3 separate regions of the Homo sapiens genome follow, and all the other regions are linked to region 2. Evidence: fine-mapped expression QTL. A gene starts in region 2. Each other region holds a variant in brackets. All regions are shown on one strand. Distances are from middle to middle.

Evidence for each region.
Region 1: its variant is fine-mapped to the expression of SLC39A14 in whole blood (TOPMed, PIP above 0.99).
Region 3: its variant is fine-mapped to the expression of SLC39A14 in T cells (TOPMed, PIP 0.97).

What each region holds. Positions count from the first base shown.
Region 1 is chr8:22,450,895-22,462,458 of GRCh38, reverse strand. The region is part of intron 1 of PPP3CC (protein phosphatase 3 catalytic subunit gamma); the gene reads right to left. Among named protein-coding and RNA genes, the nearest start is that of PPP3CC, 16 kb to the right of the region's middle. The variant G/T (reference allele first, on the strand shown) is at 5,730.
Region 2 is chr8:22,361,501-22,371,095 of GRCh38, reverse strand. SLC39A14 (solute carrier family 39 member 14) reads right to left here and starts at 3,818. Exons shown (of 9, transcript NM_001128431.4): 1 at 3,688-3,818. RefSeq lists silencers at 2,400-2,578, 3,504-4,173 and enhancers at 2,934-3,183, 4,719-5,219.
Region 3 is chr8:22,513,157-22,524,720 of GRCh38, reverse strand. PPP3CC (protein phosphatase 3 catalytic subunit gamma) reads right to left here. Exons shown (of 14, transcript NM_005605.5): 6 at 11,289-11,428; 7 at 2,153-2,230; 8 at 1,972-2,066. All of the region lies in intron 1 of LOC124901905 (a long non-coding RNA gene), which reads left to right. Among named protein-coding and RNA genes, the nearest start is that of SORBS3, 33 kb to the left of the region's middle. The variant C/T (reference allele first, on the strand shown) is at 4,783.

The DNA of each region.
Region 1 (11,564 bases), 90 kb before region 2:
ACCTCCCCTAAATGGTAAATGTTCCAGTTTAGCGGACGAATGATCAGAAACAGAGATTAAAAAGTGAAACAAAACTGAAATTACACTACAAATTGCTTGCAGATGCACAGAAAAGCACTTAGTACTTGCAAAACAGATAAACTGAACCAAACCAAACCGCAATGTACTGTGCATCACAGGCCATCTAAGCTCAAACCTTATTTTTTTTCTTTTTAAGAGAGAGGGTCTCCCTCTGTCACCCAGGCTGGGGTGCAGTGGCATGATCATAGCTCACTGCAGTCTCCAACTCTTGAGTTCAAGTGATCCTCCCCCTCAGCCTCCCAAGTACCTAAGACTACAGGTGTGTGCCACCACACTCAGTTAATTTTAATTTTAAAAAAATTTTTTTAAAGACTGAGGTCTCACTAAGTTAAACAGGCTAGTCTCAAACTCCTGGCCTCATGCGATCCTCCCATCCTAGACTCCCAATGCACTGGGATTAAAGGTGTGAGCCACTGTGCCCAGCCTCAAACCTTTATTAATATCAGCTCACTCATACCCGTATGTTCTAGTACCACAAACTGATCTAACAGTAAATCCTCAGGGACTTATGTGTCCTAGAGGCAAAACTACTGGCTGTTCCAGCAACTCACTCAAATTACATATTCTAGCCAATCCCTGCCCAGACTACTACCTTTATCCTAACATTACTCTGTGACTAACAGCTCCTAAAATCCTGTATGTCCTCTTTCCTAACTCTATCCTTTTGAGAGGTCCCACAGCTCTTCTGATGTATGTTATTCCTTCCTGCAGCAAGCTAAATCAGTGTAACTTATTTTTGACTACAGATGTTTTCTTGGTGGTCTTTGGTGGTGAGATTTAACAGTCCCATGGCAGGAAACTGGTGGCTGACAGTTAGGAATAGGAAGACTTTTTACCACATACCTTTTAAAATGTTATGCCATGTTATTCTACTATTTACTTAAAAAATACATAGAATTAGACTTTAGAGATGTATATAATACTATCATAAATTAATCGACCAACAGTAATATTACCAACATCCAATACTGCTGGAACTTACCCAGGAATCAGAGTGTTTTGGATATCAGCAGACAGGAAAATTCACCACCTGCTTCTACAATTCTAGAAAACCAGCCAGCAGTTAGGGGTGGTAATTAGCTTCATATCTAATGTAAACAAACTTTTATTATACTGTGTATTTATACTAAAAATCAAGTTTAAAAACCCCTTATCATTAAAAACAAACTTCATATGTGGAACTATGTTTGCTAAATATGGCTCACAAAGTGCTGTAAATAAAGTAAAGATTTTCAGCTGGGTGCGGTGGCTCACGCCTGTAATCCTAGCACTTTGGGAGGCCAAGGTGGGCGGATAACAAGGTCAGGAGTTCGTGACCAGCCTGGCCAATATGGTGAAATCCTGTTTCTATTAAAAACACAAAAATTAGCCGGGCATGGTGGTAGACACCTGTAGTTCCAGCTACTCGGGAGGCTAAGGCAGGAGAATCACTTGAACCTGGGAGGTGGAGGTTGCAGTGAGCCGAGATCACACCACTGCACTCCAGCCTGGGCAACTGAGCAAGACTCTATCTCAAAAAATAAATAAATAAAGTAAAGATTTTCTTTTTTCATTTTTAGACACAGGGTCTCTCACTCTGTCACTCAGGCTGGATGGTGTGCAGCTGCTTGATCATGCCTCACGGTAGCCTCGAACTCCTCAAGCAATCCTCTCACCTCAGCTTCCAGAGTAGCTGGGACTTCAGATATGCACCATGACACCTGACTAATTTTTAAATTTTCTGTAGAGACAGGTGTCATCATGTTGCCCAGGCTGGTCTCAAACTCCTGGCTTCAAGCAGTTCTCCCACCTCAGCCTCCCAAAGTGCCAGGTTTACAGATGTGAGCCATTGCACCTGGACTAAAATAAAGGTTTTCATGCTATTTTTTAAAGTTTCGAAAGTTTTGGCCTGGGAATGGTGGCTCATGCTTGTAATCTCAATGCTACAGGGGGCCAAGATGGGAAAATCACTTGAGGACAGGAGTTTGAGACCAGCCTGGGCAACATAGCGAGACTCCACCTCAAAACACACACTCACACACAAAAAATTCTTTGAAATTTTCAAGCACAGAATTTACAAAAATAGAATAGGAAAGTATTATCCATGTAGTATCAAGTATTGATTGTAAACATTCTGCTAATCTTTCAAACTATCCTATCTTTATTTAAAGATTTTTATAAATCAAAGATACTATACACTTGAGGCAAAACAATTTTTTAAAAGAGCACAAAACAAAAAACAATAACCACCACAAAAACAAAACTCTTAGAATCTCACCAGCCAAAGACAACTACTGTTAAGATGTCAGTATATATCTTAATATTTTAAATATGTAAATACATTATTTTATAATCAGTTATACTATATAGACAATCTTCTAATGTTTTCTTAATTTAGTAGTAAACTCCACTAATGCAGTATAGATATTTTCTCCCATTCTGTGGCTTGCCTCTTCATTTTCTTAAACATCTTTAGAAGAACAATTTTTCAAAAGTCCAATTGTCAGCGTTTATGGTTCATGCCTTCTATGACCTATCTAAGAAAATAGTCTACCCCAAAGTCACAAAGATTTTTCCTATACTTTCTTTTAGAAATTTATAAAAACTTCACCTCCCCAAGACCATACCTCCTAATACCATTACATTGGGGATTAGGATTTCAACATACAAATTCTGGGGGGTCACAAACATTCAGACAATAGCATTAAATAATCTCTTGTACTTCTTCTTAATACATATATCAAAGTAATATGACATGAACTAGAATGAAAATAATCTCTGAGAGGTCACTAAAGTTTAAGTCCAACCAACAATGTAGGCATAACATGTGACAAATAATACTCACATGCAAGATACTCTCTCATGAAAATGAAAGTATTTTACACAATTCTAGATAAACCACCTATAAGTTTATCTCTTTAAACACACACACACACACACACATAACAAAGTGATAATAATGAAGTGGTTATTAGTGGGAACCATGAATCTACTCTAATCTTACATACAAGATCATTCAAAAACTTCAGGACTTCAAATATTGTTAGTTACAAATTATAACACATATTTCACACATGGATTGCACTAAAGAAAAGTAAGAAATTTGCAGCTCTGTATTAAAAAGAGAATAGAGATTTAAAAAATAACAAATCACTAAAATGGTCTGGGCACAGTGGCATGTGCCTGTAATTCCAGCTACTTGGGAGGTGTAGGTGGAGGCGGAACGATCACTTGGGCCCAGGAGTTCCAGGCTGCAGTGAGCTATGACTGCACCACTATACTCCAGCCTGGGCAGCAGTGCTAGACTCTGTCTCAGAAAAAAAAAAAAAATTACAAATGTATATTTCTGGTGTCAACTTCAATATGTGAAACACATAATGCCACGTGCTACTAACACTTCTTCATAACAATGAAACATTTTATTCATATCATTCTACTTATAGTTGCTGACTTCCTTAATTTGATTTAAAAGCAGCAAACTTTGAAGAAATTCATTGACCACAATTAACACTCTTTTCTCAATAATAAGAGGTAGGAAAGACTGTGTATAAAATCATCAACTCCTCTGGTTTCTCCAACACCAGTTGGGGAGATTTACAATTCAAATCGAATTATCCAGTATCCTCCTTTGAAACACTGAAAGAGTGTACATTACCAACTGAAAAACAAAACATTCCATAACTAAATATATCTAAGTTTCTATAGGTAGCCTTCCTAAAATCCTAGCTAGTAGTGATATATATATATTTTTATTTTACTTTATTTTATTTATTTATTTTTATTTTTATTTTTATTTTTTTTGAGACGGTGTCTCGCTCTGTTGCCCAGGCTGGAATGCAGTGGCATGATCTCAGCTCACTGCAACCTCTGCCTCTCAGGTTCAAGCAATTCTCCTGTCTCAGCCTCCCAAGTAGCTAGGATTACAGTTGAGAACCACCACGGCCAGCTAATTTTTGTATTCTTAGTAGAGACAAGGTTTCACCATGTTGGTCAGGCTGATCTCAAATTCCTGACCTCAAGCAATCCGCCTGCCTCGGCCTCCCAAAGTGCTAGGATTACAGGCGTGAGCCACCGAGCCCAGCTGATATTTGTTAATAGTGAAGTTCTAAAATTTGTATCAAAGAGCTAGAAGGATTCTTTGAGTAACGTTTGAAAGTGCTAGGGAAAAAATACTAGAGCAGTAATTATATTCTAGTTAAATAACTAAATGTTTATCTGGTACCTACTACATGCTCACATTGTATGGGTAATGTGTGAAATATACAAGTTGTTTTTGTGTGTTTTTTTTGTTTTTTTTGTTTTTTGGTGCGACGGAGATTTACTCTTGTTGCCCAGGCTGGAGTGCAATGGCACGATCTCGGCTCACTGCATCCTCTGCCTCCCAGGTTCAAGCGGTTCTCCTGCCTCAGCCTCCTGAGTAGCTGGGATTACAGGCATGTGCCACCACGCCTGGCTAATTTTGTATTTTTAGTAGAGACGGGGTTTCACCGTGTTGCCCAGGCTGATCTCGAACTCCTGACCTCAGGTGATCCGCCCGCCTTGGCCTCCCAAAGTGCTGGGATTACAGGCGTAAGCCACTGCGCCCGGCCGAAATATACAAGTTTAACACATTTATTCTACCTTGAAGAATCATATGCTCTAGTTGAGTAGAATTCGCATAAAACAAGATATAAACACAGAATAGTTAAGCAGTACATTGTATGGTTCAGACTGTAAGTACGGAAGATTATAAAGGGGGAAATCAACGATAGCTACAGAAATCAATTAAGTGTATGAGAAAGTTGAGACTTGGGCTGGGTGCAGTGGCTCATGCCTGTAATTCCAGAACTTTGGGAGGATGAAGCAGATGGATCGCTTGAGGCCTGGAGTTCAAGAGCAGCCTGGCCAACATCGTGAAACCCTCCCTATCTCTACTAAAAACCACAAAAATTAGTCGGGCATGGTGGTGTGCACCTGTAGTCCCAGCTACTCCAGAGGCTGAGGCAGGAGAATCACTTGAACCTAGGAGGCGGAGGTTGCAGTGAGCCGAGATCCAGCCTTGGAAAAAAAATTCTTAAAAATAAATAAATAAATAAATGAAGATGGGACTTGGGCTGGGTCTTTCAGAAGTTCCAAAGCCACTTCCACACTTTTAGGTGTTTGTTACAGCAGCACTCTATTCTTGGTACCAAAATAAATAGAAGGTATACTAAAAGGAAGAAAGGAGAAAATTTCAGATATATATGTAATATGCTGTATATTTTTAACGAAATATTTCAATATTACAGAATATTGAGAGAGGGGAAGGGATGGAGGGGGAAGGAGGGAAGGAAGGAGGGAGGGAAGGAGGGAGGGAGGGAGGGAGGGGAAGGAAGGGAGGGAGGAAGGGAGGAAGGGAGGAAGGGAGGGAGGGAGGGAGGGAGGGAGGGAGGGAGGAAATAAATCACAGCTGAGAATCATTCTAAGCCTATGCATCCAAGAAGTCTTTCAGTGTTCCCAAATCTAGCTTTTTACCATGTGTCAGCTGCTTTCAGATTACCTGTATTTCATTAAAAATTATTTAACAATGCTTCCAAATCAGAAGCAAAAACCTTAATCAAACCAGGTTTGCACATGATTAAAAACAATAGCCAAACTATAAAACTGAGTTTCCCGTGGAGAAGGGGGACTGGTGTAGCTATACAGGGGAA[G/T]TAACTAAATCTTGTGGTTACGGTACTGTTGAGTACCCTTATTGTGCTGGTAGTTATGCTACCTATATGTGAAATTGTGTAAAGCTAAACACACATACACAGACAGGAATGCATGTATAACTGGTGAAATCTGAACAAGCTCTATGGACTGTACCAATGTCAATTTCCTGGTTTTGGTATACTACTGTGTGTGGTGGTGTGGGATACTGACACGGGCAAAGAGAGGGAAGGGAGTTAGGGGAGAGGTGTTTGGGACCTCCCTTTACATTTCTTTATTTACAACCTCCTGTGAATCTATAATTATCAAAATAAAAATTAAATAAATTTTGAAAAACTAAGTTCCTAAAGTACACTCAAGAAATTCTGCAACCTTTTCAAGATCAGATTCTGTATGCTACTACAATATACATTGACTACATAAACAATATGTATTTTCAGGTAAACACAAGTAAAATCTGATGTAGATCTGCATAAATGAGAAACAGCCACATGGGTTGACCTGCGGTGAGTATGAAACATAAACCTTAAAGGTTATTGGCCTATAAGCTATTATTTTTAGATTATTGTGGTAGTCTTATCCTCATGGGACACTAGGATTTGCCTAAATAGCTATGTCTGTTCACTGCTTTCACTCCTATTTTAAGCCAGCAGTCCTGCCCTACTTTTTCAGACTCATTTCCTAATCTACTCACCTGCCTTGCCAATCATGAACACGCACTGCTAAATAAGTTACATTAAATATTATTACCAAAAGTATTATGTGCCCTTTCAACTGTTCCTCACCAGAACAAGTGACTTTAGTTCCATGATCTGATCAGCTTCTTTGAGATTATTCCTCTGGTCTTTGATAGTCACAGAACTCACTTTCAAAGTATTAGCTAAAAACTGGCCCTCCTAGAACCAACTAAGTAATAATAGTCACAGAACTCACTTTCAAAGTATTAGCTAAAAACTGGCCCTCCTAGAACCAACTAAGTAATAATAGTCACAGAACTCACTTTCAAAGTATTAGCTAAAAACTGGCCCTCCTAGAACCAACTAAGTAATAACCACCACCAGTCACAGTCAACAGAAACAATAACTTCTATAGTGGCATATGTTTTCCATAAAGCAGTGCAAAGTAGTTAAAAATAACCAACTTGCTTCCATGGAGAAGCCCACCAACTATCTTTATTACTCCAGCCATTCATTAAAATCACTCTATTTTAAACTTCCACAAAGCCTTAGGTCACAAGAAAAAAACATACGTAGGCACACACATAAAAAAACACAAAAGTCTTACCTCTTCAGGCCACTAGTCACAGTCAGATTAAACATTAAAGGATTATCAATTTATAGATCAAGGGAACAAACATTTCACACCAGGTATTGTCTACAATTTAGTCACCTGCTCCTTTTGCAGTGGGATTAGTCATAGGTCACTATATAGTTCTAAATTTCTGTGACATTTTTGAGAGGCTATTATATGCTACACCGCATGAGTACTTTTCAAGTAGTATTTAACCCTTCTAAGCATAACCAGAAATGTGCTCCATGTAATAGGAACTCATCAAATATTTATGAATACATCACTTCCAAAATTCTATCTATACTATAGAAAAGGAAAATTTCATCATTTTTCTTCTTAAGCATTTTAGGTTTAAGTCCTTTCTTTCTTTTTTTTTTTTTTTTTTTGAGATGGAGTCTCACTCTGTCGCCCAGGCTGGAGTGCAGTGGCGCAATCTCGGCTCACTGCAAGCTCTGCCTCCCGGGTTCATGCCATTCTCCTGCCTTAGCCTCCCGAGTAGCTGGGACTACAGGTGTCCACCACCGCGCCCGGCTAATTTTTTGTATTTTTAGTAGAGATGGGGTTTCACCGTGGTCTCGATCTCCTGAACTCATGATCCACCCGCCTCGGCCTCCCAAAGTGCTGGGATTACAGGCGTGAGCCACCGCGCCCAGCCTTAAATCCTTTCAATATCTAAGACTAAAGTTAGAAAACAGTCATGTGCCACATAGCAATATTTCAGTCTACAAGACTATATATATATGACAGAGATCCTGTAAGATTATAATGGAGCTGAAAAGTTTCTATCACCTAGTGATGTTTTCACCTGTCTTAACATCACGGCATAAGGCACTACTACTCACATTTGTGGTACTGCCGGTGTAAACAAACCTACTGCACTGCCAGTCATATAACGATAACAAATATGTTACTGGCTTATACATTCACTATACCACCCTTTTAATCATTACTTTAGAGTATACTCCTTCTACTTATTCAAAAAACAAAAACAACAAAAAAAAGGTAACTGTAAAACAGCCCCAGACAGGTCCTTCAGGAAGTATTCCATGAGAAGGCATTGTTGTCATAGGAGGTGACTGCTCCATGCCTGTTAATTCCCCTGAAGACCTTCCAGTGGGACAGGAGGTGGAGGTAGAAGACAGTGACATTGATCATCCTGACTCTCTGGAGGCCTCAGCTAATGTATGTGGTGTGTGTTCATTTTTAACAAAAAAGTTTTAAAAATAAGAAATGTTTGAAATCGTAAAAGCTTATAAGAATAAGGATATGAAAGAAAATATGTACAGCTATATGTGTTTGTGTTTTAAGCTAAGTATGAGTACAAGAGTTAAAAAGTTTAAAAATTTTTAAGTTTATAAAGTAAAAGTTACAGTAAGCTAAGGCTAATTTACTATTGAAGAAAAATATTTTATAAATTTAGCATAGCCTAAGTGTGCAGTGTTTGTAAAGCCTGCGGTGTTCTACAGTAATGCCCTAGGCCTTCACATTCACTCACCACATACTCCCTGACTCACCCAGAGCAATTTCCAGTCCTGCAAGCCCTATTCATGTTAAGTGCCCTCCACAGGTGGACCATTTTTTATCTTTAATACTGTACTTTTACTGTACCTTTTCTAGGTTTAGATATGTTTAGATACCCAAAGACTTACTGTTGTGTTACAGTTGCCTACAGTATTAAATAGAGTAACATGCTGCACAGGTTTGTAGATTAGGAGCAATAGGCTATATACCATACAGCCTAGGTGTGTAACATCTACGTTTGTAGATATATATAACATCTAGGTTTGTATAAGTATGGTTAACTCAAACAACATGGGTTTGAACTGCACTGGTTCACTTATATGCAAATGTTTTCAACCAAACACAGGCTGCAAAACCCCATCCTGCAAATACAGAGGGCCAACTTTTTGAATTCTCAGGTTCCACAGGGCCAACTTCTGGACTTGAATATTCAGGGATTTTGGTATATGTGGGGGTCCTGGAACTAAGCTCTCACATATACCAAGGGATAACTGTACACTATACAATGTTTGCATAATGATGAAATCGCCTAAGGATGCATTTGTCAGAACTCCGAATTATTAAGCAACTATGTAAGCGTGACTATATAAAATACAGTACTCTTAAATCTTCATTTCACATGTCACTTAAAGTAAAATAGATCTACTGTCAAATCTCGCCAAGATCCAAGATTGATTTATTTTTTAAATAATAGCTAACATTTATTAACCACCCACTATGGGCATTATGCTAAGCACTTTACATACAATATGAGATGTAATCTTTAAATTCTGAGGTAGGCACTATCTCCCATTTTACACCTGTGGCAAGGAAAATAAATAACAAAGCTCAAAGGCCACACGGCTGGTAATCAGCAGAGTCTGTACTCTTTCTTACACTGTCATCCATAAAATAAGCTTCTTATGCTTGCACATACTTAAATATTTACTAAGCACCTAAGCGTGTGTTAAGCACTGCATTCAGCATTAAGGATACAGTGGTTGCCCTTAAAGAGAGGAGTTTATTGTGAAGAAAGGACAAGAAAATATTTAAAGCGATTTGCAAAGCAATGAGATTGTTTATGGGAGCTCATAGGAGACAGTAATTCTTATGATGATGATGATGATAGCGATGGCGGCAGCAGCACCTACCATAACATATATGGAGTACTCACTATGTGCTTGCCACTGCAAGTTTCATTATCCCTCTTCTACACATAAAGAAATGCAGGTAAAACAAGTGTAAGTGATTTATCTAAGGTCATGCATCACTAAAAGAATTTGAGCTGGGCATAGTAGCACATGCTTGTAGTGCCAGGCATGAGAATGAGGCAAGAGAATCACTTGAGCCCAGGAGTTTGAGGCTGCAGTGAGCTATGATGGTGCCACTGCACTTCTTCAGCCGGCTAACAGAGCAAGACTCCATCTCCTTGAAAAAAAAAACAAACAGAAATTTGAATCCAGGTATGTCTGACTGAAGCCCATGTTCTCAAACCATTACTCTCCACAGCTTCTTAGCAGAGAAGAAAAAGCTTCTCAGAAGTCCCCTTGGCTAAATCTTGAAAAACAAACAGGAGCTGGTCAAGCTGAGGGACAAGATTCTACGCAGGGCCAGGCACAGTGGCTCATGCCTGTAATCCCAGCTCTCTGGGAGGTGGGAGGAACACTTGAGGCCAGGAGTTTGAGACCAGGCTGGGCAACATAGCAAGACCCTGTCACTACAAAAAAGTAATAAAAATAAAACATTTAGCCAGACATGGCAGCACACGCCTGTAGTCCCAGCTACTCAGAGGGATGAGGCAGGACGATCAATTGAGGCCAGGAGTTTGTTTGAGGCCACAGTGAGCATTGATCGCATTACTGCACTCCAGCCTAGACAACAGAGTGAGGCCTTATCTCTAAAACTGTTAAAAAAAAAAAAAACCATTATGCACAGAAGCAAAGAGCCCATTCACAGATATAAAACATTCTAGGACGACAAGTATGACTTCTTATTCAAAGTGCTTAGGACCAGAAGCATTTCAATTTCAGATTGTTTCAGATTTGGGAATATTTGCATATACATAATGAGATGTGTTGGGAATGGAACCCAAGTCCAAACACAAAATTCATTTATGTTTCATATACACAGAATGTGAAGATAATTTTATAAATATTTTTAATAATTTTGTGCACAAAATAAATTTGCGTACACTGAATTAGAAAGCAAATGTGTCACTACCCTTAGCCACCTACGTGGTCAATCTGTGGTTGCCTGGACATCACCATCATGCTGTGCATGGAAAAGATATATCACAACCGAAGGGGGCTGGGAGGGTCTTTTTCCCTTGGGGACACTGAAAAAACTTTGGGTTATGTCCCCAGGTTTTGATTACAACCCATCACATGAGGTCAGGAAAGAAAGTGTCCACTTGTGGTGTCATCTGGCACTCAAAAAGCTTCAGATTTTGGAGAATGTCAGATTTTGGATTAGGAACACTCAACCTGTAGTATTAAAGGAGGCTGGGGGCCGGACACAGTGGCTCACGCCTGTAATCCCAGCACTTTGGGAGGCCGAGGAGGGCAGATCACCTGAGGTCAGAAGTTTGAGACCAGCCTGGCCAACATGGTGAAACCCCATCACTACTAAAAATACAAAAACTAGCTGGGCGTGGTGGCATGCACCTGTAATCCCAGCTACTCGGGAGGCTGGGGCAGGAGAATCACTTGAACCTGGGAGGCGGAGGTTGCAGTGAGCCAAGATGGCGCCACTGCACTCCAGCCTGGGAGACAGAGTGAGACTCTGTCTCAAAAATAAATAAATGGGCCGGGTGCGGTGGCTCACGCCTGTAATCCCAGCACTTTGGGAGGCCGTGGTGGGCAGATCATGAGCTCAGGAAATCAAGACTATCTTGGCTAACACGGTGAAACCCCATCTCTATTAAAAAAAAAAAAAGAAAAATTAGCCGGGCGTGGTGGCGCGTGGCTGTAGTCCCAGCTACTCAGGAGGCTGAGGCAGGAGAATGGCGTGAATCCGGAGGCGGAGCTTTCAGTGAGCCGTGGTGGCGC
Region 2 (9,595 bases):
CTCTGCGTCTCTGCCTCTGCCAGGCCCAACCAGGGGCCCCCTGAGAGGTTTAATGCCCACGGTAGTGGGGGGAGGGGGGAACAAGATAGTGGGGCTTCGTGACCCTGTGTTCTAGGGCCTGCCCTCCTGTCCCCTAGGTGGGCATGAAGCCCTGGCTGGCGACAGTCGATGGGGCGGACTCTGGACTCCTTATCTCCTGGCATTCCACCAGCCCACCAGCCTGGAGGTCAGAGAAGCCCCACTGCAGACACCCGGTGAGTCCCGGCTGGGCTGAGCAGCAGGTCCCTTCCCTGCTCACTCCCCAGCCTCCCATGTCTCCAGGGAGTCTGGAAAGAGTAAGAGACTCCTCCAGAAGAAACTAACACCCCCTCCCTCAATAAGCACAGGGACAAATGGCCCCTTCCTCTTCTAGTTTCCAAGCAAAGACTGGAGGTGTCAGCAATTTCATAATCACATTTAGGATCAAAAATAGAACCCTTCTTTGGTCTTCTCCATCAAGTCTCTTGGCCACTGGCAACCATGTGACTCGGGAATACCAATTCACCTCCCTGGATCCAGTTTCTTTCACTGTAAAATAAAGGTGCTGGACTCCAAGATCACCAAAGTCCCCTGCTCAACATTCCATGGTTGTGGGGCTCAGCAACATGGTGCAGCATTACCTTGGCCAGGTCAGGTGCAGGCAGGCTATTATCCTGACATAGTGGGGAGAGGGAGGTCCTGGTTCCCAGGCACGCACAATCTATTCACAACACTACTGTGTAAACCCCATGATTCTGCAAATGTTGGACAGGGATTGAGTTTCCTCTTGGAATAGTGCAGGGTGTGAGCAGGTAAGGAAGGAGGAAGAAGGTAAGCAGGGTTTAAAAACAGAACCAGTCCTGTGAGTGATATATACCCTACACACACGCACACGCACATGTGCACAGATGTGCACACACACACACAAGCACACACCCACCACCCAGGCACACACAGGCATTGTTACTCCTTCCTGGCTACCATCAGCCCAGAGAAGGAGCATTTCTTCTCTGAAGAAATCAGAGCAGCTCCCAGAACCAAAGGTAGAAAAAAGTTTGTTTTCCCTAAAATTGCCCAATTGATCTGTGGGACAATCCCTGGCAGGCCACAGAAAAGCGGCCTTCCCAGAAGGGCAGGGAAATTGCATCCATGTTGCCAAGGAAGAGATGAATCAACCCTACGCCTGGGCTCACACCATTCCTACAACCCAACCCAACTATCAGCCTCTGGGACCCCTAAATAACCCACTCCACCCCACAAAAATTATGACGATGAGAATGATGACAAGCAGCCCTCTACTATGTTCCAGGCAAAATCACGACATCCTGCAAGCTGGTGAGAACAGAAGTTAAGAAATTTCTCACTGCTGGAGAGTGACGGGGCCAGGAATTGAACAGAGACCCACCTATCTCAAAAGGCCAGAATTATTCCCGTCTTTCAAGGATGCCCGCTCTCTGAACTGAACTGTGCACAGTATGGAGGCTTCTCTTGTGTTGCTATCTTGTTCTTCACCCGTGGATGCTGTTTCTCCCCAAGAGTTTGCACTGGAAGGGTGGGGGCCAGGCCTTCTGCGTGCACCCGCCATGGTGGCCACTGCAGAGCCCAGCACAGACCAGGCAATGTACATCCACAGGCTAAGAGTCCCAGAGCCCAAAATTCTTACTCTGGCCTAAAATACAAGGCCAATGATGCAGCTGCTCCAGCCCCCAAGTCCTCAGGTCAGTGAGTTCCTCTAGCCTCTGCACTGGCTGGCCAGCTGTCAGTCAACACCTGGATCGAATCTCCCGCTCAGCACTGCCCTCCCTCAAGGCCCCAGAGGCCAGATGAGTAAAATATGATAAATTAAGCAAGAACCTGCTTTTGGCCTGGCCCTTTGGGAAGAGACAGTATCCAGAGGACCCCCTTCCACTGTCTGGTGCCCTCTAGTCTTACCTGCAAACCAACCCCAGCAAGAGGACCACTAGCCTATCTCCTGGCTACCACACAGGTAATGGAAAACTCACCTCTCTGAGCCTCCACCAGGAAAAGGAACATGTGGCTTTTAATTCCAGCTGCTAAGTTATGATTCTGGACATCCCTTCTCTTGCTTTACCAAGGATGTATATCCTTGGGGTGGCTCCATGGGGCTCTGGGGTCTGGACTTCGCTTTTCAGGAGCTGCGTCCCGGGGGATATGCATCCAAGGATGTATATGGACAAGTTCTTGTCCATATTTAGGACTTAGGTTTTAAGAGGTAAGGATAGGCCGGGCAGGGTGGCTCACGCCTGTAATCCCAGCACTCTGGAAGGCTGAGGTGGGCGGATCACGAGGTCAGGAGATCGAGACCATCCTGGCTAACACGGTGAAACCCCGTCTCTACTAAAAATACAAAAAATTAGCCGGGCATGGTGGCACGCGCCTGTAGTCCCAGCTACTCGGGAGGCTGAGGCAGGAGAGTCGCTTGAACCCGGGAGGCGGAGGTTGCAGTGAGCCGAGATCGCGCCACTGCACTCTTGCGTGGGCAACAGAGTGAGACTCCGTCTCAAATAAAATAAAATACAATAAAATAAAATAAAATAAAATAAAATAAAATAAAATAAAATAAAATAAAAGAGGGAAGGATTACGGAATTGTATATGCTGTGGTTAAGGAGATCTAGTCTGACCGTGGTACTGACCTGACCCTCCCAAGGTCACAGGGCCAGTTAAGAGCAGAGCAGGGACAGAGGCCAGGGCTAACTCCCAGGCCACTCCTCAGCAGGAGCACAGCCGTCCCAATGGCCTGGGGCTCCTAGGGGAGAGCCACTAAAGACGTAAACCCAAACCAGGCTTGCTCCAGGAAGAAGGGTCAGGTCAAAGCTGCTCCTAACCCCACGCTTCCATTCGGGCCACAAGAGAGCACTTAGCCACTCCCCAATTGTGTCCGGAGTCCTCCTGTACAGCCGAGCCCTTTAACTGTTTAGAGAAGCCTGTCTCTGGAACCCAGGCCCTGGCAAGCACCAGATCCTCAAAAGTGAACCCCTAGTCCAGAGCTGACGAAATTTTCCCGGCTCAACTGGACCTCAGGATCAGATGATGAAACTGCTCGGATGGCGACTTTGTCCCACTGCCCTCACCCACCAAGAGGGGGCAGCCTGAACCCGACCACCTAACTTGGTCATTAAGGACCAAAAATAGCCAGAAAGCCATCCTCGTGGGCAAGCCAGGTTGGAGATTCGCTCAGCCGGAAGATTGGGTACATGTACCTTCAGAGGGGAGATGGACCGGCGGGGGCCCGGGGACGCAGCTCCTGAAAAGCAAAGTCCAGACCCCAGAGCCCCATAGAGCCGCCCCAAGAGCCGCCCCTCGGATTGGCCACCTACTGTCTGCGTTCTGCGTCCGTGTCCGCGCGGGGAATCCGGGAGCCTGGCTCAGCCTTCGGCGCGGCGACCCACGCTCTGGGCACCCTTCTGCGGCTCTAGCATCCCGCACCCTCCAGGCGGACAGGCCGCGCCTTGACCTCTCCCCTCGCCAGCGCGGCACCACGGCCAGGTGCAGCCTCCACCCAGCCGTCCGGGCGTGTGCCGGTGCCCGGGAGCGGCGCCCGGTCCTCGGCGCAGGGCTGTCCCCGCCCCCACCCACTGCCCCAGCCTGGGGTGCGGGGCTCCTCCGCCGCTGCCCATCCCGCGGCCCTTGGCGTCCCCGCCCTCACCTGGCGCTCGGAGGCGGCCTCGGCCCCGCGCAGCCTCACCGCAAGGTCCCAGGCGGCCGGCGGCGGCAGAAGCAGCTTAGCCGGTGCGTCCGCGTAGACACGCGCGCCGACCCCCCTCACTGCGTCCGGGCCCCGGCACCGCGCGCATGCCCGGCTATATACCCGGCGCGTCAGCGGCCGGACCCGCCCCCGGCCCGCCCCGCTCGCCCCGGGGCTGCCACGTGGGGCCGGCAGGCTGGGGACCTGGCCAGCCTGCGCCCTCCTGCGCCTCGCGGCCCTGGCTGTGGTCGGCGCCCGCTCCCATCCTTCATCCGGCCGTGACTCCCGAGGACCCGCAGGCTCCTCCTGCCTCCGGAAACCTCCCGTGAAGACCTGCTCCCTGGGCGCGGGAAGCTCTCACCGCCTAGCCTCCACCCCACACCCCCTGGAGGAGAGTCCTACCCACTCTATTTGAATGTGATTTTACCACTTCTGGTTCACCCAAAAAGCTTTTCTCTTCCCTCCCCAGTTCGGAAAGGTACTTCAGAAGGGGACGCGCCCTTAGATGGTGTTTCTTCTGCATATTTCCACCAGCCAAAAGAACCAAAATTTCCTGGTCGAGTTCCAAATAAACCATATTATATTCACTTTTCAGACTTGATGCCGCACCGCTTCCCACAATGATCAGACGCCTAAAGAACCCTACTAACCCAAAGTTGGGAGAAATGTTAATTTGGGGGTGAAGAAGTTCCGAGGAGACTCTTCCTCTGTGGGACAGTCCCATTGAGATGTATATCAGGCCTGGGAAATGTAGTCGATTTCTTGAGAAAATAAACCACCCTTTCCACTCCCATTGTTCTGTTCTGCAGGACATCAGGACAATTTCCTCTATGAGCTGAACCCGCTGCCACCTGGGCCTTGGGGGGCTCGGAGGAAGGGCTTTCTAGCCCAACTGTCGCGGCTTAGTACTCGAGCTGATCCTAGCACAGTGACTGGTCCCCAGACGGCACTAGCTGTCTCTAAATTTGCGCAGGGAAGGGGGCAACATCCCACTCTCTGCAGGTCTTGCGGGGAGGACCCCCGTGATGGCGGCGCTAAGGAGAAAAGGAAAGCAGACAGTCGCTGGAGCCGGTAGCAAGAACTCAGGAGCTTGCTCTTCGCCAGGCCAGAGGGGGTCAGATTCTTCATATTACTTTTGAAGAGTGTAGCTGGGCCCCGGGCGTTTCTAAAATTCAATTATCCTCACCCCGTAATTACAGTGCTGCAGTGGGTATGGGGGCAGGGTGATATTCCTCTCATTTATTTTCCAAGTGATTTCAAAGTAATGATATCTCTTGCAGAATTTCCCTCAGAGCCCCTTCATCTTTGTAATAACCCTATTTCTCTCTTGGTTAAACTCGGTGCTTTCCAGACATTATGTCATCCGTTTGGGACTCTCATCCCACTGCAGTGGGCTGTGAGAAAGGGGCCAGTCCCCGCCACACCTTTTGTTGAAGCACTGGAAAAGGAGTGAGAAGCCCACCCAGAGATAAAGTGAAATAAGTATGCTTCCAACACACAGAGCTCTGAAGGGTATGAAGCCCGTAAACACATATCCTAATGGAGTGTTAAATCTCTTAAAACCAAAGCTGGAGAGCAATCCCATGGCTTTTCCAGGCAAGTTGTCAATACTGTCCACAGGAGAACTAGGCACCCTTCAAGGAGATTGCTCGGCAGAGAGGGGGCAGGACCAGACACCCCACCACCGGGCCTATCATGGCGTTCTCACTTGTTTTCAACCACACTAAAGGTGGAGCTGTCAAAGTCCACATAGGCAAGCAGAGCTGATAAGCTATCAGTAATCCATTAGGGAATACAATTAATTATTAACAAAAGGTCTTAACTCTCCATATCTACCCACACACAAAATTCTTTAGGCATCTCTTAAATCCTTCCTTGTTGCTGGGTAGTTCTCAGTTTCTCATTCCTGGTGCCAGGCTTGGAGGCCCACTTCTCTCTGCTCTCCACTTTTTTTTTTTTTTTTTTTTTTGAGACAGAGTCTCTGTAGCCCAGGCTGGAGTGCAGTGGTGCAATCTCGGTTCACTGTAACCTCCCCCTCCCAGGTTCAAGTGGTTCTCCTGCCACAGCCTCCTGAGTAGCTGGGATTACAGGAGCCCGCCACCCTGCCTGGCTAGTATTTGTATTTTTATTAGAGACAAGGTTTCACCATGTAGGCCAGGCTGATCTCCAACTCCAAGCTCAAATGATCTGCCCACCTCGGCCTCCCAAAGTGCTGAGATTACAGGCGTGAGCCACTGCGACCGGCCTCTGCTCTCCACTTTTTCCTCTCATTACCCATTTTCACTTGTCAAAATTCTAACTCTCCAAAGTCACCTCTCGCCTGCAAGCTTGTGGATTTTTCTGAAGCATGTTTGAACTACCCTTTCCTATTTTTGACTGTAACCCACATTAAAAACATTTAACACTGCAACTCCAATATAAGTAACAATACGGCAAACAAAAATTTCACAAAATATCCATAAAGATATGCATTGCAATGATATTTTGTTATAGTTCAATTTAAAAAAAAAAAAGTGATAACAAACCCACTAAGTTGACTTCATGACCATTATTAGGTTGTGATCCACAGAATTAAAACTTTATATGGTTTATGGTACTTATATTTTTTCCCTTAAAATTATTTCACTTTAATCTCCAACCTTATTAGACCTTAATCTGCCTTGATTACACGAGATTTCCCTATATACCTGTATCTCCTAAAGTAACATCTTGCATATAACAGAGTCTCAATAAATATTTGCTGGATGAATGAACGGGCTGGCTCACTAAAAGTTTGGTGTTGGGCAATATTTAAGGGAACTTAGCACAAAAATCTGACATTTTCATTGCTACTGTTTTCCTTCTGACAAGACACCATAGCTACCTGCCAAAAGATACATAGCCAGATCTCCCGTAGCTGAGGTGACTAGAACAGCCTTGGGAAATAAGCCAGAGAAATGAGATTCTAGCCCTGATTGTGCAGACAGTGGGCTGGGGACTCCAGATGAAAGCCCTCTGTGCGGTTTGTGGTGACAAGGTAAGCAACTTGACCACGTAGATGAGGTAAAATCCCTCTGCACCCCAGGTCTTAAGGCCAGCTTTTCATTTTTCTTTTTTTTGAGATGGAGTTTCACTCTTGTTGCCCAGGCTGGAGTGCAATGGCATGATCTTGGCTCACTGCAACCTCCACCTCCTGGGTTCAAATGATTCTCCTGCTTCAACCTCCCGAGTAGCTGTGAATACAGGGGCACGCCACCACGCCTGGCTAATTTTTGTATTTTTAGTAGAGAGGGGGTTTCGCCATGTTGACCAGGCTGGTCTCAAACTCCTGACCTCAGGCAATCCACCCACCTCGGCCTCCCAAAGGGCTGGGATTATAGGCGTGAGCCACCATGCTGGCCTTAGGCGCACTTTTCTTACAGTCTGTCTGGAGGTCAGTGACCAGATTTCTCTGGTGCTTTATTGGGAAAAAATGAATTTTCTGTTTTGGGATGGCTTAACAAATTTAAGAGGATTGGAAGGAATGTGAAGGTTCTATTCAACCCGAAATCATGTCAGAGGGCTCAAGTACTAGCTCCCTACATTGTCAGCTGAAAGAGAAGAGCTTTAGAGGCCTCAATTGTTCATTTCTGTTGTCATCTGATGGTTTTGACACACAAAAAAAGACAACTGGGAAAAATACTTTGTTTAGTAAGCTATAGAAATCTGTGCATTTTAGCTAAGTTGTCTAATTTTTTGGCAAACAACTGTTCATAGTATTCCCTTACAGTATCTTTTCTTTATTCCCTGTAAGTTTGGTAGTAATGTGCCCTCTTTCATTCCTGATTTTAGTAATTTGTGTCTTTTTTCTCTGTCATTCTAGTTAAAGGTTTGCCCATTTTGCTAATATTTTCAAAGAACCAACTTGTTTTGTTGATTTTCTCTATTGGTTTTCTGTTCTTCATTAATTTCTGTCCTGATCTTTATTTTTAAAATATTATTTTTGCCCTCACCTGTGAATGAGTGTTTAGTTGGGAATACAATTCTAACTTTACAGTTGCATCTTTTTTTTTTTCTTGAGACGGAGTCTCGCTGTGTTACCCAGGCTGGAGTGCAGTGGTGCAATCTCGGCTCACTGCGACCTCTGCCTCCTGGGTTCAAGTGATTCTTCTGCCTCAGCCTCCTGAATAGCTGGGATTACAGGTGCACGCCACCACGCCTGGCTAATTTTTGTATTTTTAGTAGAGACGGGGTTTCACCATGTTGGCCAGGCTGGTCTCAAACTCCTGACCTCAGGTGATCTGCCCACCTTGGCCTCCCAAAGTGCTGGGATTACAGGCATGTGCCACTGCGCCTGGCCTACGATTGCGTTTTAAAATTTCTATTCCTCTTGTCTTAAGGCATCTATTGTGGTTCAGGAAGTGTGTGCTGGTGGTTTGACTAACTTTCTTTGTAAGCAATCTCTTCAACTTCTGGTTGGTTTTGTTTAATTGACAAATAGTAATTGTACATATTTATGGGGTACAATGTGATGTCTGGATACCTGTACACATTGTGAAATGATCAGATCTGGGTAATTAGCATATCTATCATCTCAAATATATATATATGTATATAATATATACATATTCTTTTTTGCCTTGTCTTTGTCAGGCTATTCCTTTTTTTAAAAAAATCATTCCTTTGTAGTGGGAACATTTAAAATTCTTTTCACTATTTTAAAATATACAGTATTAACTATAGTCACCATACTGTGCAACGGAACACTAGAACTTATTCTTCCTAACTGTAACTTTATACCCATTGACCAATGTCTCCCCTTTTCCCTGTCAACCTCCCTCTACCCCCACCGTGTATCTGGCAACTCCCTTTCTATTCTCTACTTCTATGTTTGACTTTCTTAGATTCTACATACAAGTGAGATCATATGGTATTTGTCTCTCTATGCCTGGCTTATTTCACTTAACATAATGTTCTCTAAGTTCATTCAGGTTGTCATGAGTGACAGAATGTCCTGTTTTTGATTTAAAGCTGAATAGTATCCATTGTGTAAATGTACCACATTTTAAAAATCCATTCATCCGTTGATGGGCACTCAGGTTGTTTCCATATCTTGGCTATTGTGAACAGTGCTGCAATGAACATGTGAGTGCACATATCTCTTTGGCATACTGATTTCTTTCTTTTTGGAGACAGAGACTCGCTCTGTCACCCAGGCTGAAGTGCAGTGACACCATCTCGGCTCATTGCAACCTCTGCCTCCAGGGTTCAAGCGATTCTCATGCCTCAGCCACCCGAATAGCTGGGATTACAGGCGTGCAACACCGCGCCCAGCTAATTTTTGTATTTTTAGTAGAGACAGGTTTTCACCAGGTTGGCCAAGCTGGTTTGGAACTCCTGGCCTCCAGTGATCCACCCTTCTTGGCCTCCCAAAGTGCTGGGATTGCAGGTGTGAACCACCATGCCCCGCCCAGCATACTGATTTCAATTCCTTTGGGTATATACCCAGTAGTGGAATTGCTGGATCATATCTGGCTGTTTTGTTTTCACGATTCTGTCTTTCATGTTCTATAGTTTCACTATAGTTTATCTAGCAATGGATATGCTTTTCTTTTATTTTTTTGAGATGGAGTTTTGCTCTTGTTGCCTGGGCTGGAGTGCAATGGTGCAATCTTGGCTCACCATAACCTCCGCCTCCCGGGTACAAGCAATTCTCCTGCCTCAGCCTCCCGAGTAGCTGGGATTACAGGCATGCGCCACCACGCCTGGCTAATTTTGTATTTTTAGTAGAGACGGGGTTTCTCCATGTTGGTCAGGCTGGTCTCGAACTCCTGACCTCAGGTGATCTGCCCACCACGGCCTCCCAAAGTGCTGGAATTACAGGCGTGAGCCACTGCGCCCGGCCAGATAT
Region 3 (11,564 bases), 150 kb before region 2:
TTGAGCAATCAATAGATACTCTTTTTGATGAAGTTAAAAAAGAAAGTGAGAAAGAAACACCTTCATTACAAATAGGAGATCTAGGGCCACAAGAGTCCTTGAAGACGTTTAACAACACAAACAGTCCACACCATTGATAAGAGAATAAATAAGAATAAAACCTAAGTTGCTAATATACTGGAAATATCAGGAAAAAGGAAATAACAAATGAACTTAGGGAGAAGCAGAGCATTGTAGGACAGATAAGGCTCAGAGAAGAATGCTAAGTTAAATGAAAACATAAGACTAGGACAGAACTTAAGTTAAAGACATGCTTTTTAAAATAGACAAGTCACTGGAGGACACACTAAAATGACTGACCCAAATCGGATTTAAATGAGATGTGCCATTCCATGGTTTACTTTTAAATAGAGTAAATATTAATTATATTTTGGCCATCTTTGAAACTTATCTCCCCAACTGCATATACAAGGTATAACTATAAAGTAATGAGACTTAAGAAACCACCAGCTACAAACACACCAGACCTTTTTATCAGATGAGTGTGGTCCTTTGATATTATCACATCAGGTACAATAACAGTAAAATCTGTATTATTATAGTAATTTATATTTTGAACAACACTTTAATATCCATTTTCCTTATTCCAACTTATCTTCAACAACCCCATATGACAGATATTTTAAAGATGAGGCTCAGAGAAGTATCTTGTTAAATGTGACACACTTAAAAGTGAAGCAGGACTAGACTGACTCCTTGCTTTGTGTTCTTTTCAGCACAACTTGTTGCCTTACCATATAATTAATCCAGAGATGCTGCCATTACTCAAAACGTTTTTGGAACTCCTCTTTTGGAAGTGCCTCCAGAGCCACTGTATCAGCAACACGAGAAAAACCAGTCTCATTACCTTATAATCATACCTTGTTTCTGACCCCAAATGGTATCATCTAGCTTGATCACTCACCTTATTTATCAGTCTTGACTCCGAATGACTTTTGGCTGTCCAAAAATCAAATCCACCCTCAAAGGACGAAGATTTCCCATCATTGAGGATAATCAAAAGAATGTGTCGCAGACTCTGAAGGCAATGCCAAAAGAGGAGTTCCAAAAATGTTTTTGAACAAGGACAGCATTGTTGGAATAGGTGTGTAGCCTCCCAAGGTAACTACTTTGAAGGGACAATACTCATTTGGATATGTTTGTTCTGGCATGTTTATTTTCAAAGTCCTATTAATTTATAGTCATACTTTATAAACAACAAAATAGTTACAGAAATATGAAGTTTTTAGTAGGACCACTGCCTCGATAGAAAACTTATAAACTATTAATCATAAAAGTTTTAAATTAAAAAAAAGACTTTAACAGGATAAAGTCTTAGAAGTAAAATTTCTGGAACAAAAGGCATGTATATATCCATTCTTCTTTTTTCATATGGGAAACTGAAGATTAGAAAGATAATGTGACTCACTCAAAGTCACAGTATTCGTTTCTGGCAGGGTTTAAACTAAAAATGAAGGTTTTTTTTTGACTTTGTACACTAGGTCACTCTACCTAGACCATATCTCAAGAAAAACAAAAATAGTTTAATAATTCACAAAGATTAAAATACCAATGGTGACTTTGAGATACTGTTATAAACACATTAAATTCACCAAAACCAATAATTTATGCTAACTATTCTGGCATGAGCCTGAAGCAATTTATTCTTCTTATACTTTGATTCTGTAGTATCAATCTGACCTATTATGATCATTATTTATACTCACAAAGAAGCCAGTAATCCTTAGGAGATAAAGACCAAGCAGCAGCATAAATTCTAAATTTCTTGGCCTTTGTTTCAACTAAGACCCCTTTTTTTCTTATTTAAAATTTATGTTTTAAAATGACACAAACACACATACGTACATACAATTAAACCAGAGCTCACGTTTACTCATAAATTCAAACTCAAATATTGCTGGATTCCTTTACCTTTATTGTTATAGACATCTAGGTAATTGGGGGCAGAGAAAATTGTAATAAGTGATGGAAAGCCTGTGGCTTGGCTCTTCCTGTACATTCGATACCTGAAAAAGAGATGAAAGTCCATCTGTCTGCATATTAAATGCAAAGACTCTGCAGCGATATTTGGTACAATTTTAATGTAACTTACCCAGCATCTTGGGCTTCATGGGCTCTGATAATTGATAGTAAATTATTGTTCTGCAAAAATTCACAAACTGCAGGGTAACTGGAAAAGAAAATTAGAAAACATAAATCCAGAATTAAAACAATTTTTTTTAATAGGAAGATGGGGAAAAGTCAAGGTGATATTAGCTGATTTTGTTTCAAAACTACAAGTATTACACACTACTGAAATTTTATGAATAGCTTAGTACTCATCATTCTGTTTCTCTATTTCACTAATATACTTCACTACAGATCAAACATGAAAACAATAGATAATCCTACAATAGAAAGAGCTCCTCCATCTCATCTTTTAATTTTTTTGTCTTAATCCATAACAATACAACACCAAAACTTTTATCAGTGTCTTGATATTACAAAGTACAACAGTAGTGTGTGTGTGTGTGTGTGTGTGCGTGTGTGTGTAGTAGATGCTAAAAATTCAACACATACTTTTCTTCAATTGTCAAATTGTTACAGAAATAAAAGAATATACTTACAGCTTCACAGGTAATATAAACACCAAGATAATATTATGCAGGAATACATATATACATATATATGTATATATATAGGTTTGTTTTTTTTTTTGAGACGGAGTCTTGCTCTGTCGCCCAGGCTGGAGTGCAGTGGTGCAATCTCGGCTCACTGCAAGCTTATGCAGGAATATTTTAGGAGCAGATGTAAATATTTTAGCCAACCATATTCTAAAAAAAGATACAATATTCTCATATACTCCTAAAATATTCTTTTCATACTATTACCTCTCTGAATGACAAATACCTGATAGGAAGAACTGGAGTATACAAAATTAACCTGGAATTACTTAGGCATTAATTATTTAGTTTATTTTTAAAATCTTTGTTTCTCATTATGCTCATTAGAACAAATTTACTTTTAAAGTAGGTTGTAGGTGACGTAAGCAAGATAGCAAAAGAGAATGTCCCCAGCCCTGGTCCTCCTACAGAAACAATAGTTTGGAAGCCATCCATGGCCATAAGTGCCATTGTAAGAACCTTAGGATTGAGGTAGGTGGTTATGAAACCTTGGTGGAGCCCAAGACTAGGAAGGGCTGCTTGGAGAAGGCAGGCCCACTGACCTTTCAGCTACAGACCCAGAATCAGCCTGTCCCTTGTAAACCCGGCTCCAGTCCCACTTGTCTGCAGTCCTACCACCAGCCTCATCCATCCTGGGAAGGAACCATGTCTGTTGATGCCCCTAGTAACAGATCCACCAACCAGACCCAACTGCAGACTCAAAGCAGCACTCTGACCTGGCTCCAGCCCTGCTCTACTGTGGCCAAGAGGAAGTCCTGCCTTAACAGGGGCCTTGTGGAAATCATGCCTGTCCATTCCTCTGGTAAAAGGGCTGCTGATTGGACCCAAACATAAACCCAAACCAGCCTGGGACCCAGCTTGGGTCCCACCCTATTGAGTTCCAGAGACAGCTCTCCCCATCCATGGGACATACTTGTCCATGCCCCTAGTGGTACGCCCACTGACTGTGAACCCTAATGTAGCCCCATAATCTAGCTTCAGCCCTGCTTAATCACAATACCACAGGCAATCCCATCAACCCAGGGACTCAATAGGAGAAGGTATTTACTTGGCGAACGAGTCCATAAAAACTGGAAGGCCCCTGCTCCTTCAAATGCATAGACTCCATTGCAAGGCTATATGAATTATAAAGAACCAGGCAAAAATGACACCACCAAAGGAAACTAATAAACCTCTAGTAACTGGCCCTAAATAAATAGAGATGTATGAATTGCATGACAAAGAATCCAAAATAATCATCTTAAAGAAGCTCAATGAACTACAACTAAACAAAATCAGGAAAGCAAATAAATGAATAAAGAGAGATGTTTAATAAAGAAACAGAAACCATAAAAAAGAAGCAAATAGAAATCCTGGAGCTGAAGAATACAATGACTCAACTGAAAAGCTCAAGAGACAGCTTCAACAGCAGACTCAGGCAGAAGAAAAGAACTGGGAAACTTAAAAGACAGGTCATTTGAAATGATAGCATTAGAGGGACAAAAAGAAAAAAGAATAAAAAAGAATGTGGAAAGTATACAGGACTTATGGGACAACATCAAGTGAAAATAATACAGGCATATGGGAGTTAAGGAGAAGAAAAAGGGGCAGAAAGCTTCTTATTTTTAAAAACTAAAGGCTAACAGTTTAACAAATCTAGGGAGGAAAAGGGACATTTCAATTCATGAAGCCCAAAGGTCTCCAAATAAGTTAAACACCAAGACTCATTATAATTAAGTTGTTAAAACTCAAAAAGAAAAAATCTGAAAGCAGCAAGAGAAAACCTACTTGTCATATAATATACAAGGAAGCTTCTATAAGACTATCAGTGAATTTCTCAGCTGAAACCTTGCAGGCCAGGAAAGCGGGAGATAATATATTCAAAGTACTAAAAGAAAGAAAAAAAAACCTGCCAACCAGGAATACTTTACTCATCAAAATTGCCCTTTAAGAATGAAGGAGAGATAAAGACTTTTCCAGACAAACAAAAACTGGAGTTTGTCATGACTACACCAGCCTTATGAGAGCAACTAAAGGAAGTTCAAGTAGAAACTAAAAGATGCAGCTGGCCACAGTGGCT[C/T]GTGCCTGTAATCCCAGCACTCTGGGAAGCTGAGGAAGGCAGATCACTTGAGGCCAGGAGTTAGAGACCAGCCTGGCCAACATGGTGAAACCCCATCTCTACTAAAAATATAAAAAATTAGCCAGGTGTGGTGGTGTGTGCCTGTAGTCCCAGCTACTCAGGAGGCTGAGGTAGGAGAATCACTTGAACCCGGGAGGCAGAGGCTGCAGTGAGCCAAGATCGCACCACTGCACTCCAGCCTAGGTGACAGAGCAAGACCCTGTCTCAAAAATAAAGTAAAACCTGAAATTAATTACATTAGGTGTGTGAATGGGGACTAAAGTGTAGAGTTTCTATACGTCATTGAAAGTAATTTCTTCTCAGCGTAAGACAGAGTGCTATAACTATAAAATGTTTGATGCAAACCCGATGAACAAAAAAGCACAGTAGATACACAAAAGATAAAAAGAACCAAAATACCCCACTACAAAAATAAAAATCAAATCACAAAGAGAAAAAGAGAGGAATAGTAGAACCACAAAACAGAAAGCAACCAACAAAATGGTAATAGTAAGTCCTTACCTATCAATCATTACTTTAACTCTCAAATCAAAAGATATAGTATGAGTGAATGGATGAAAACAAGACCCAACTACATGCTGTCTACAAAAGACTCACTTTAGATTTAAAGACACACATAAGCTGAAAGTAAAAGGGTAGAGAAAGGTATTCCATGCAAGTAAGTAACCGGAAGAGAACATGAGTGGCTAAACTTTTATCAGACAAAATAAACTTTAAGTCAGAAATCATCACAAGAGGGAACAAAAGTCATTATATAATGATAAAAGGGTCAATACAACAGAAAGATGTAACAATTATAAATATATATGTGCCCAACATCAAAGCACCTAAATATATAAAGCAACAACAGATCTGAAGGCAAACATTGACAGTAATAAAATAATAGCAAGTAGGACGGGCACAGTGGCTCACACCTGTAATCCCAGCACTTTGGGAGGCTGAGGTGGGTGGATCACCTGAGGTCAGGAGTTCGAAACCAGCCTGGCCAACATGGTGAAACTCCGTCTCTACTAAAAATACAAAAATTAGCTGGGCGTGATGGTGCATGCCTGTAATCCCAGCTACTTGGGAGGCTGAGGCAGGAGAATTGCTTGAACCCAGGAAGCGGAGGTTGCAGTGAGCCGAGGTCGCGCCACTATACTCCAGCCTGGGCGACAGAGCGAGACTCCATCTCAAAATAATAATAATAATAGCAAGTAACTTCAATACATCATTCTCTGTAATGGATAAATCATCCAGTCAGAAATCAATAAGCAAACAACAGAACTGAACAACACTATGAACCCAATGGACCTAATACGCATATACAAAACTTTTTGCCAAATAACAGAAGAATAGAATTCTTCCCAAGTGTACACAGAATATTCTTTAGGCTATATAATCACAAAGAAGTATCAACAAACTTAAGAAGATGTAAATCGTCCTAAGTATCTTTTCCCACCATAATGGAATGAAACTAGAAATCAATAACTTAAGAAAACAGGAAAATTCACAAATACATAGAAACTACACACCACACTTTTGAACAACTATTGTGTCAAAGAGGAAATCAAAAAGGAATTTTAAAATTATCTCTAGATAGGTCAGGAGTTCGAGACCAGCCTAAGCAACACAGCAAGACCTCATCTCCTCTAAAAATTTTAAAAACAATTAGCTGGGCATGGCGGTACATCCTGTAGTCCCAGCTACTCAGGAGGCTGAGGCAGGAGGACTGCTTGAGCCCAGGAGTTCAAGGTTGCAGTGAGGTATCATTGTGCCACTGCATTGAGCCTGGGTGACAGAGCAAAACATCCTATCTAAAAAAAAAAAAACCTCAAGATAAATGAAAACAAAAATATACATATCAAAATGTATGGGATGCAGCAAAAGCAGTACCTACAGGAAAGTTTATAGTAATAAATGCCGATTTAAAAAACAAAAAAGATCTGAATTAAACAACCTTATTTTACACTTCAAGAAACTAGAAAAAGGAGAATCAAATAAGCCCAAAGTAAGCAGAAGAAAGGAAAGTTTAGGGCAGAAATGAATCAAATAGAGAATAGAAAAACAACAGAAAAAAGTCAACAAAACTAAGAGTTGGTTTTTGAAAAACTAAACAAAATTGACAAACCCTTAGCAAGACTAAGAAAAAAAGAGATACTCAAATAAATAAAACAAAAAATGAAAGAGGAGACATTACAATAGATGCCTCAGAAATAAAAGGGATCATAACGGACTATTACGAATAATCACACACCAAAACACTGGAAAACCCAGAAGAAATGGATAGAGTCTGGAAATATACAACCTGCCAAAACTGAATCATGAAGAAATAGAAAGCCCAAACAGACCAATAGCAAATATGGAGATGGAATCAGTAATCAAACAGCTCTCAACAAAGAAAAGCACAGGACCAGATGGTTTCATGGGTGAATTCTATTAATCATTAAAAAAAAGAATTAATACCAATCTTTCTTAAACCTTCCAAAAAATAGAAGAGAGAATTCTTCCAAACTCACATTATGAGGCCAGCATCACTCTGATACCAAAGCCAAAGACACCAGAAGAAAGAAAAGTACAGGTGAGTATCTCTGATGAACATAGATTTTTAAATCCTCCATAAAACACTAGAAAGCCAAACTCAACAACATACTAAAAGTATTATATACTGTGGCTAAATGGGATTTATCCCTGGGATAAAAGAAGGCAGAGTATCACTTTGTTCAGCCTCAGCTGGGAACATGTGTGCTGGGTGAGTCAAATTTTTTATCTCATTATTCCCAGTAGCTACATTCTATAATGTTGCTGCAAAAACAGAATTAGCAAATAATGAAACACTACTGCTAAGGGAAATACAGGGTGAAGTTCCTGTGAGGCTCCGGTCATAACATTTTCACCCACCAATTAATATATAACCTTGTTTCAGATGTGTTTCTGTGTAATAATACTTTAGGTCATTTACACTGTTGATTCATTAACATTGAACTCATGGCCAAAACCACCATAACTCATGCCTAAACAAAGCTTATATCTAACACTCGCATATTTTCTCTGTAAGACATACCACAGCCTTTTTGTGCTTAGGGACCCTAGACAGCAGCACTTCAGCACTACACTTGGTGGCCATTCTAAACAGTGAAATCACTCATGAAAAGCACAAAAACATAAAACATCTTTCACTAAATAAAACTCAAAAGAATGCCTGTTTACAACATGAGGGCTGCAAAAAGAAGGTAGGGCATCATTTTGTTCAACCTCAGCTAGGAACATGTGAGTGAGGTGACTCAAATTTTTTGTTGCATTGCACACTACATTCCCATGAATGATTATGAAACCTCTGTAAGTACTGATTTGGGTGTTACAAATACATCTTAGTAAGTGGGGGAATTCACAAATATGAAATCCACAAGTAATGAGAATCAATTATATATCTACAGGATTAAGTTTTAGAAGTAGAATTTCTGGATCAAAGGCCATGTACAAATACCTTTGAAAGATATTGCCAAGTTGATGTCCACAGAAATTGTACCAATTTCTATTCTGACAACAATGAATATGTATTATGCTCTTTATTTTAAGCAATGTAAAAAGAAATAAAAGTTAAATGATTTCATCACATTAGTCACTGGAAAAGTTGGCATGGAGGAATGAAAAATGGTTGTTGGCTGGGTGGGGCTCATCCCTGTAATCCCAGCACTTTGGGAGGCCAAGTAGGGAGGGTCACTTGAGTCTAGGACTTCAAGACCAGCCTGGGCAAAACAGCCAAGACCTTGTTTCTACAGAAAATAAAAAAAGCAGCTGGGCATGGTGGCACATGCCCATAGTTCCAGCTACTCAGGAGGCTGAGGCAAGAGGACTGCTTGAGTCCAGAAGGTTGAGGCTGTAGTGAGCTGTTATGGTGCCACTGCACTCCAGCCCGGGTAACAAAGAGAGACCTTGTCTCAAAATAAAATAAAATAAAATAAAATAAAATAAAATAAAATAAAGAAGAAGAAAGAAAAAAAGACTTTTTACTATCCATCTGACAAGAGATTAATAACCAGAATATGTAAGGAGCTCAAACAATTCAATAGGAAAAATCCAATAATCCAATTTAAAAATGAGCAAAATATCTGAATAGACATTTCTTAAAAGGAGACATAAAATGGCAAACAGGTATATGAAAAGGTATTCAATATCACCGATCATCAGAGAAATGCAAATCAAAACTTCAATGAGATATCATCTCACCCAGTTAAAATGACTTTTATCCAAAAGACAGGCAATGACAAATGCTGGTGAGGATGTCGAGAAAAGGGAACCCTCATATCCTATTGGTGGGAATGTTTAGTACACTACTATGGAGAACAGTTTGGAGTTCCTCAAAAAAACTAAAAACAGAACTACCATGTAATTCAGCAATCTCACTACTATGTATGTATATAAAAGAAAGGAAATCAGTATATTGAAGAGACATCTGCACTTTCATGTTTATTGCAGCACTGTTCACAATAGCCAAGATTTGGAAGCAACCTAAGTGTCTATTAACAGATGAAAGGACAAAGAAAATGTGGTACATATACACAGTGGAATATTATTCAGCCATTGAAAAGAATGAGATCCTGTCATTTGCAACAACATGAATGGAACTGGAGGTCATTATGTTAACTGAAATAAGCCAGGCACAGGAAGACAAACTTCACACGTTCTCACTTATTTGTAGGAGCTAAAAATTAAAACAACTGAACTCATGGAGATGAGAGTAGAATGATGGTTACCAGAGGCTGGGAAGGGTAGTAAGAGGGGAAATGGGATAGTTAATGGGTCGAAAAAAACAGTCAGAAAGAATGAATAAGACCTAGTATTTGATACTGTGAGATTTAAACAACAGGGTGACTATAGTGAATAATAATTTAATTGTAAATTTTAAAATAACTAGAAGAGGCCGGCCACAGTGGCTCATGCCTGTAATCCCAGCACTTTGGGAGGCTGAGGTGGGTGGATCACTTGAGGTTAGGAGTTCCAAACTAGCCTGGCCAACATGGTGAAACCCCATCTCTAAAAAACACAAAAATTAGCCAGGCATGGTGGTAGGTGCCTGTAATCCCAGTACTCAGGAGGCTGAGGCAGGAGAATTGCTTGAACCTGGGAAGTGGAGGATGCGGTGAGCTGAGATCACACCAGCCTGGGTGACCGAGCAAGACTCCGTCTCAAAAAAGGAAAAAAAAAAAAAAAGGTGAAAAAAAAAACAACAAAAAATAAAATAAATAAAAGAGTAATAATTGGATTGTTTGTAACACAAAGGATAAATGCTTGAGGTGATGGATAACTCATTTACCTTGATGTGATTATTATACATTGTATGACTATATCAAAATATCTCATATAACCCATAAATATATATACCTACTATGTACCCACAAAAATTTTAAAAAATATTTTTTTAAAGAAAAAAAGGTTGTTTAGAAGAATGCTAAAAGTAATGGCGAAATCAAAGTTTCATGTGTGTGTGCATGTGTGTATTCTAATGAACACATTATCTTAGCCAATTAACAGAGATTTTTAGGGAAATAAACATATGTATTATTTGCCACAATAAAATACTGGGATTAAAAATAATTTAGATTTCCAACTTCTCTTATGTCTTCCTTTTTTTTTTTTTTTTTTTTTTTGGAGACAGAGTCTTGCTCTGTTGCACAGGTTGGTGTGTAGTGGCACAATCTTGGCTCACTGCAACCTACACCTCCCAGGTTCAAGTGATTCTCTTGCCTGAAGTCTCCCAATTAGCTGGGATTACAGGCGTGTTGCCACCACATCTGGCTAATTTTTTTATTTTTAGCAGAGATGGGGTTTTGCCATGTTGGCCAGGCTGGTCTCGAACTCCTGGCCTTAAGTGATCCGCCCGCCTAGGCACCCCAAAGAGCTGGGATTATAGGCGTGAGCCACCACGCCCTGCCTGTCTTCCTATTTTTGAGTGTCTAATCATAATGAAAGCTCCTGTGAAATTTAAAACAACAGCCAACTTCCAGGAAATGTACTGGGCTTAGTTCACAATGTCCTGTTCTTTTTATATCTTAGTCTATACTAGTGGTTACAAAATTTGGAGAGCTTTTGAAAATACAATAGGATTCCTCTCAGACCTAGTGTATTAGAATCTCTGGGGAAAGAGCCAAGAAAGCTTTAATTTTTTTTAAAAAAGTGTATAGATAATGTTTAGGAACAAATAGTCTAGATCACTTAGAGTCAGACAAAAATATCAGAGCACTGCAGGATGTCCAATCATGTTTGGTGTATTACACTTCTTAGGATATATACCTAAGAAAATATAAAAAGCCAACAAACAAACAAGTTTCTTGCCTCCTATTAATCGAAAAATTAAACAGGAGTGCTTATACTACATAGATTTGAAATATAAAATGCTGAAAAATCATCTGATAAAATGAATTACAGTTTCCTTTCATAATTTTCGACCTCAAGGACTAGCTTACCTGTAGAAATAAGAGCACCCTCGGACAGTGTTGTGGGTATAGTGCTCCAAGGTCTTCTCATTGCCATAATCCTCTGAGGGATCAGACCAAAGCAGGTCACACACAGGTCCAAAGGCGGGAGGTTCCGTAAACCTGTCTAACTAGAAGACACACAAAAGCCAAAAGAAAAAAATCAGGAGAGCAAAAGGCTTCTTGGAAACTAGTATGTGTCAAAGAAAAACCCCTTTCACCCACAAGAATGTATTAGGAGAGAAGCCAGTGTGCCCCTAAAGGACT